2 linked regions of the Homo sapiens genome follow. The protein of the gene in region 1 interacts with the protein of each later gene in a biochemical or structural test. Each region holds a gene or a part of one and is shown on either strand. Other genes may lie near its edges.

Region 1 (3,500 bases):
GGGGTTTCACCATGTCGGTCGGGTTGGTCTTGAACTCCTGGCCTCAAGTGATCTGCCTACCTCGGGCTCTCCAAGTGCTGGGATTACAGGCATGAGCCACTGCCCCTGGCCCAACTTTCTGTTAATCTTTATTGGATACTTTTTCACTGTGCTGACCCCATGTGAATACTATTCAGGAGGTATGACAGTACCATTATGGTTATAGCTGTGGACACTATTCTTTTATGCTCTGTACTCATAGCTCTTCACCTTTAGGAACTAGAGTAGATGTAAAGCATTTAAGAATTTTAAGGTTTGAGCTATTTCATGATCAACCTGAAAGGGCCATAACTTGTAGGTAATACGTATTTTTGTTTTGACTGTCATGTGGTAGAAGTTACCTGAAAAATGAAGCCAACCAACTCTTTTGCATTTCAACTGTTGGTTTATTTTTTTTGAGACGGAATTTCACTACGTGGCCCAGGTTGGAGTGCAGTGGTGTGATCTAGGTTGACTGCAACCTCTACTTCCCAGGTTCAGGCAGTTCTCCTGCCTCAGCCTCCTGAGTAGCTGGGATTACAGGCCCACACCACCAATCCCAGTGAACTTTTGTATTTTTAGTAGAGACAGGGTTTTGCCATCTTGGCCAGGCTGGTCTCAGACTCCTGACCTCAAGTGATCCACCTGCCTCGGCCTCCCAAAGTGCTGGAATTATAGGCGTGAACCTCCACGCCTGGCCTCAACTGTTTAATTTTTCACTTTACTGTTTATATCTCCTAACATGAGTTATTGTTCTGAAGCACTCAAAATTTTAATCTCTATTTGATTGTGTTCGAAGGTGGATATCATATGTTACACTCTTGATTTGTGGATTCTGGATTCATTAAGAATATCAAGATTTCTTCTGTAATTTGTGTGGTTCTTCCTAAATACAATAACTTGATTTACGAATTCCTGTTGCGCTGTGTGCGGTGGCTTGCATCTGTAATCCCAGCACTTTGGGAAGCTGAGGTGGGCAGATCGCTTGAGTCCAGGAGTTTGAGACCAGCCTGGCCAACATAGCAAAACCCCGTCTTTACAAAAAATACGAAAATTAACCGGGCATGGTGGCACACACCTGTAGTCCCAGCTACTGAGAAGGCTGAAATGGGAGAATTGCTTGAACTGAAGAGGCGGAGGTTACAGTGAGCCGAGACTGCACCACCACACTCCAGCCTGGGTGACAGTGAGAACCCTGTCTCAAAAACAAAACAAAACAAAGAATCCCTGTTGCCTCACCATACTTCATGCATCCTACCCCTATAGCACTTCTGATGAAATTGCGTGCCGTAGATTTAGCAATTTAGAGAATTCTAGCTTGTTTGTATGGGTTTAAAGTTTGCATGACATTTATGTTTCTATTGTTGGTCTAAAGTTAGCCCAGAGATTAGCAGGGAGCAGTAGGCTCAGAGAGTTGTCTTCCTTCTTTACTTGGTACTGCATCTCTAGGCTTGGTAGCTCTTCAGTAAATACTCTCAAAAAATACTTATTTTTAAGAAGACATTTATGTGATATTTATAAACAAATTAATCCTCAGTGGTTAGAATATGCAGTGAAATAGCAAGCAGACAATCCTTTTTTTCTCTTCTGAGAAAAGTGCTTCATACCACAGTTACAATTTTGTATGCACTAATCAAAAAATGTGTTATAAACTCTAAAGTTTAGATGATGGAACTGTACATGAAAATAACATTCCTCTTGCTGGTTCTGTGATTTTTGTACATTAGCTTAGAACAGTGGTCCTCAAAGAGCGTTCCCACTTCCAGAAGTAGCTGCATTAACTAGGAACTTGTTAAAATGTAGAATCCCGTGTTGAATCAAAACATTTGGGTGGGACCAACAATCTAGGTTTTAATAAGTTTTCCAGATGATTCTAATGGCATGTTACGTTTGAGTAGTTGATTTTACATTGGTACTAACATTGATTCACCCATACATGGAATAATTGGGGGGTTTTTTTGAGGTGTGGTGTTTGTCAGATTTTTAAAAACATTGTTGACTGGGCGCGGTAGCTCATACCTGTAATCCCAACACTTTGGGAGGCTGAGGCGGGCGGATCACGAGGTCAGGAGTTCGAGACCAGCTTGCCAATGTGATGAAACCCTGTCTCTGCTAAAAATACAAAAATTAGCCAGGCATGGTGGCGTGCGCCTGTAGTCCCAGCTACTTGGGAGGCTGAGGCAGGAGATTCGCTTGAACCCAGGAGGCGGAGGAGGTTGTTGCAATGAGCCGAGATCATGCCATTGCACTCCAGCCTGGGTGTCTCAGCGAGACTCCGTCTTAAAAAAAAAATTGTTCATGCAACTAACCTAGTTTGAGAATTACATGTATTATGTACTGCTCACATTACATGTTATCTGTATCTCTTTATAGGAGAATGCCTTCCTGTTAGCCACCTGCCAGACATCTTTAGGAAAGTATGATCCCTCTGTCCAATCAAGAGTATTCTGCTTTTTCTCTACTTAGGGAGTACCCATAGTTTTCAGTCATCTGTACCACTGCTGCTCTCCTTTCTTGTCACAAATGATCAAGGCCTGATAATACACAAAATTAATTAAGAAATTTAGTGTAGGCCGGGCGCAGTGGCTCATGCCTGTAATCCCAGCACTTTGGGAGGGTGCCAGCACACTGGCAGATCACGAGGTCAGGAGTTCGAGACCAGCCTGGCCAACATGGTAAAAATACCAGAATTAGCTAGGCGTGGTGGTGGGTGCCTATAACCCCAGCTACTCAGGATGCTGAGGCAGGAGAAACATTTGAACCCAGGAAGCGGAGGTTGCAGTGAGCCGAGATCGCGCCATTGCACTCCAGCCTGGGCGACAGGGCGAGACTCCGTCTCAAAAAAAAGGAAATTTAGTGCAATTATTAACTCTTAAGTGAAGTGCTGTTTCTACTTACATATTTAACATCCATCTAAATTGGTTAGCATGGCCAACTAGTTGTTTTTAGTCTAAAACAACCTGTAACAGGAATAAAAGTTACTGTTAAAATGAAGAAAAACAAGGCTTATTTCAAAGTTATTATTAACATACTATTTTACCTAACAATTTATGGCCAAGTCATTCTAAAGAATAAACTATTGTGGTTAAGAGAGACTGTATCCAGATTGAAGTTTTTACCACAATGCCTGGCACAGTAAAAGGTTTATTAAATTATAGCTATTACAGTTACCATCACCACTGTTAACTTTTGGCTGAATCGTTTTGTCATTGTTGATATTTTTGTTGTTTGGTCATGACATACTATTATCTTGAGATGGTAGCTGTTACACCTAGTGCATAGCGTTTGATTTAGAAAATTTGAAGATTTGAAAAATTTTGTGTTTTTTTTCCTTTTTTTTTTTTTTTTTAAACAGCCTGCTCTGTTGCCCAGGCTGGTGTACAGTGGTGGCATCAAAGCTCACTGCAGCCTTGACGTGGCCTCAAGTGGTCCTCCCAGGTAGCTGGGACTGACTATAGGCATGCACCCCACACTTGGCTAAT
Region 2 (3,500 bases), on another chromosome or scaffold:
AATGCACAGAAACAATTATAATTCCATATAATTGACCTGTTAACTCATGCTAAATCATCTGCTATTCAGTCTCAGTGCATTCTTTAACTAAAAAGTTAGTCTGTGCCTGTTCTGTATATAAATATATTTAAAAGTAAAATAGGCTAAAAATCACTGTTGGTGCTCATTGGAAACATTTTGGGGGCGTTTAGTTGTGGCCAGCAAAATAGGGATACATTGAAAGGTTGATGTTTTGTTTTTGCTTTTCTAATAATTTCATTTAAGGTTTGGTGTAAAAAGAGTTGATAATTTATCACAGATACTGCTTTTTTAGAGCATGATTATGAGAGCTAGCATGTTATCATATTGAGGGTGTTTTTGAAAAGAACAGTTTGCAAACAGACAGGAGAAGAGACCAGAGGCAGCTTGGCCAGTATGGTGCTTAAATAAGTGTTTCATCTCATACTGGATTTTATCAGGAGCTGAAGTTGGTAATGTATTCCTTGACTGATTTGGTTTTTATCACATTTTAAAAAGTACTGGTGAAGCAGGATATTTTCCTGACCCCTTCATGGGACTTGTGAAGGGAGCACCCTGTTTACTCAGCCCACCGCTTTCAACTCCTCATAGGAGGGAGCACGTGAGTGAACAAGGCAGGAACTGGAATACATGAGTGCTGGAGTCAGCCTGCCGCTCTTGTGCCAGGAGGAATGAACTCCACTCACTCGGACCTGCTGTGTTTCACCCCTCACAAGAGGGGATGTGCAGTTGAGTGGGTGCAGGAGCCGGGGCGAGTGCTTTTGGGCACTGGCAGGAGTCAACTCTGTGCTGGCCCTGTGGTAGCATCTCCGGGGGTGGTGCCTGCAACCCCTGAAGCTCCAGAGGGAATGTTACAGTGCTCTTTTAGCTCTGCTGTCCGCAGACGGCTTAAGGGTTAACAGCTCAGTGGGCCCTCTGCCTTTTTGTGTTAATCGGCTGCCTTCTACCAGTGAGGGCAAAGGGCAAGTGTGACAGCCTTTTTGTGTCCACACTCATCGTTCCCGAGCTCTTGTCCGGCATCCAGGAGAAATGAGGTCACATGAATGAATTGAAGGATGGTAAATGTAGGGGATCTTATTGCTGATGGAGATGGCTCTTAGTGGGAAGGGGAGCTGCAAAGGGCAGGAAGGTAGTCTTCCCCTGAATGCCAGCTGTCTCTGGCCAGATTCTTCTTCGAAGTTACGCTGTCAAGGTGTCCCTCTGAAGTCGAGCCACTTCTCTCTGATGTCCAGCTGTAGTCTCTAATGTCCAACTGCTTCTCTTCTCTCTGCTGGCTGAGCCTGGGGTTTTTATGTACACAGGATGGGGTGTGGGGTGGGCCGTAAGTGGTTTCGGAAAAGGCAACATTCGCACGGGAAAATGGGGATATAAGTTCTCACTTTGCGTCATGGTTTCAGGCTTGAGGGTGGGGTTTTCTCAGGGACCTGCCCTTTTCTGCCTAGAATTTCCCTGCCTCCTGTCCCTGTCACTCACTAACTTCTACTCTTTCTTTTGAGTATTCTCACCTGTCTTTTTTTTTTTTTTTTTTTTGGTCTAGGCCAGTGTTCTCATTGAGTTATTATGGCTACTAGTTAATGGTGGTTTTAATCATTTTATATTGCTTTGAAATGTTTTGAATCATGTTTCTGTGATCTGACTTTGCACATTTGTTAAACTAGTCTTATTTATGTGGATTTAAAATCATCATGAGAAAATTTACACAAGCTAAAGTATAGAGAAAAAGTTTTACACATGGATATGAGGCATATTAAGAAGATGCTGAGCTGTGAGTTCAAATCCTTATTTTCTACACCTGTGTTACTTTGGTTTAAGCTATGTAAGCAAAATCAATGATAATTAGAAAATTGTTTTTAGTACCTACAACACACTGTCAAACACATGAAAAATATTGTCTAACATTTGTTATATGCCAAGCACGGTGATAAGCCCCTACAATGCATTGTCTCATTTTCACAGTAACCCTGCAGTAGATACTATATCATCTCCATTTTTCAAATGTGAAGCCTGAGGCTCAGCTAAGTTTGATGTAGGTGAAACAGTTAAGACGAAAGTTTTTCTGACTAAGGTTGAGGTATTAGATTAAGTTTGCTAGAATCTTTCAATTGAAAAAATAGCTCATAGTATCAAGATGAGATTATTTTAACCTGGGTTTGTGGTTGGCAGTTGTTTTATTTTGGAGAGTTATCATTGTTGACATTAAAATCCTGATTCCAGCAGTAACCTCATGATGTCAGCTTCTTATTATTGACAGCATCATGACATCTGTGTCAGCTTGCAAACCTTCTTTTGATGAAGGTGAACGGAATGACCTGGTTGTGTTTATCCCTTAAAACTGAAGAGAGAATCAACCACTAAAGCAATGGCCAGAAATGGGATCAGAGATTACAGTTACATTTTAAGAAATGATTTGCTTCAGTAGGAATTCTTCATTGATCCTGTAAACCAAAATAATTTAGATTACCAAATTAATTTAGAAAGTTTATTTTACCAAGGTTAAGGATGCACCTGTGGCACAGCCTCAGGTCCTGATGACGTGCCCCAGGCGGTAGGGGCACAGCTTGATTTTACATGTTTTAGGGAGACATGAAACATTAATCAACGTTTGTAAGATGTATAATTCATTGGTTCCATCAGGAAAGGCCAGACAACTCGAAGTGGGGAGGAGGCTTCTGGGTCATAGTTAGTTAAGAGACAAATGAGGAATAGTCACTTATGCCTTAGTCTGTAGTGAAACAGTAGGGCGGAGGAAGCCATCAGATACGCATTTGTCTCATGGGAACAGAGGAATGACTTTGAGTTCTGCCTGTCCTTTGGTTGTCCACAAGGAATTTCCTTATGGGCAAATTGTGAGGGAGGTATGTAGCTTTTTAAAAATCTTTGTAGTGATCTTATTTAGGAATAGAAAGGGAGAGAGGTTTGCCCAACACAATTCCCAACTTGACTTTTCCTTTTGGTTTAGTGATTTTGGGGAGATTTGTTTTCCTTTCACAATCCCAAGGTACATAATTTCCCACTGAAATACTTGTGCATGTGCTGGGGTTTGCCATTTTGTGTCTTTTTTAGTGTTCTTCCAAATTAAATTTTCAAGATCAAATATGGGACTCATTGTCCTGTTTATGGAGCTTTTTTTCTTTTGGTTGACTATTCTTTTGTTTCCTACAGTCTTCAACAACTGTTAGTGCTTACAATGGATACATCATGCATCTTAATTGATAGGATGGATATGATAATACCTTTTTTGGTCCAAGGTCCCGCTCATTAAAAAAAATAGTTTATAAAGCTGAAAAGTTTTTATTTCTATTTTTTGTAAAATGATTTTCATGATAGGATTTTATATAAAGGGGAAGGGTTTTTTGTATCATTTTTATAACATTTTTGAAATGAATACTTATTCTCTTTCATCATCTATTTTAGACTCACAGTTTTATGAGTAATGCAGTAAAGGTCATGTGGCACATTAGTAAAATATGTTCTGAACACAG

Evidence for each region.
Region 2: the proteins of RAB5A (region 1) and CHM form a complex in vitro, tested with the Homo sapiens proteins (one study listed by BioGRID).

The regions. Positions count from the first base shown.
Region 1 is NC_000003.12:19,953,597-19,957,096, forward strand, and holds part of RAB5A (ras-related protein Rab-5A), read left to right. Parts: intron 1-3,500. UniProt on the Homo sapiens protein: The small GTPases Rab are key regulators of intracellular membrane trafficking, from the formation of transport vesicles to their fusion with membranes.
Region 2 is NC_000023.11:86,037,559-86,041,058, reverse strand, and holds part of CHM (rab proteins geranylgeranyltransferase component A 1), read left to right. Parts: intron 1-3,500. UniProt on the Homo sapiens protein: Substrate-binding subunit of the Rab geranylgeranyltransferase (GGTase) complex.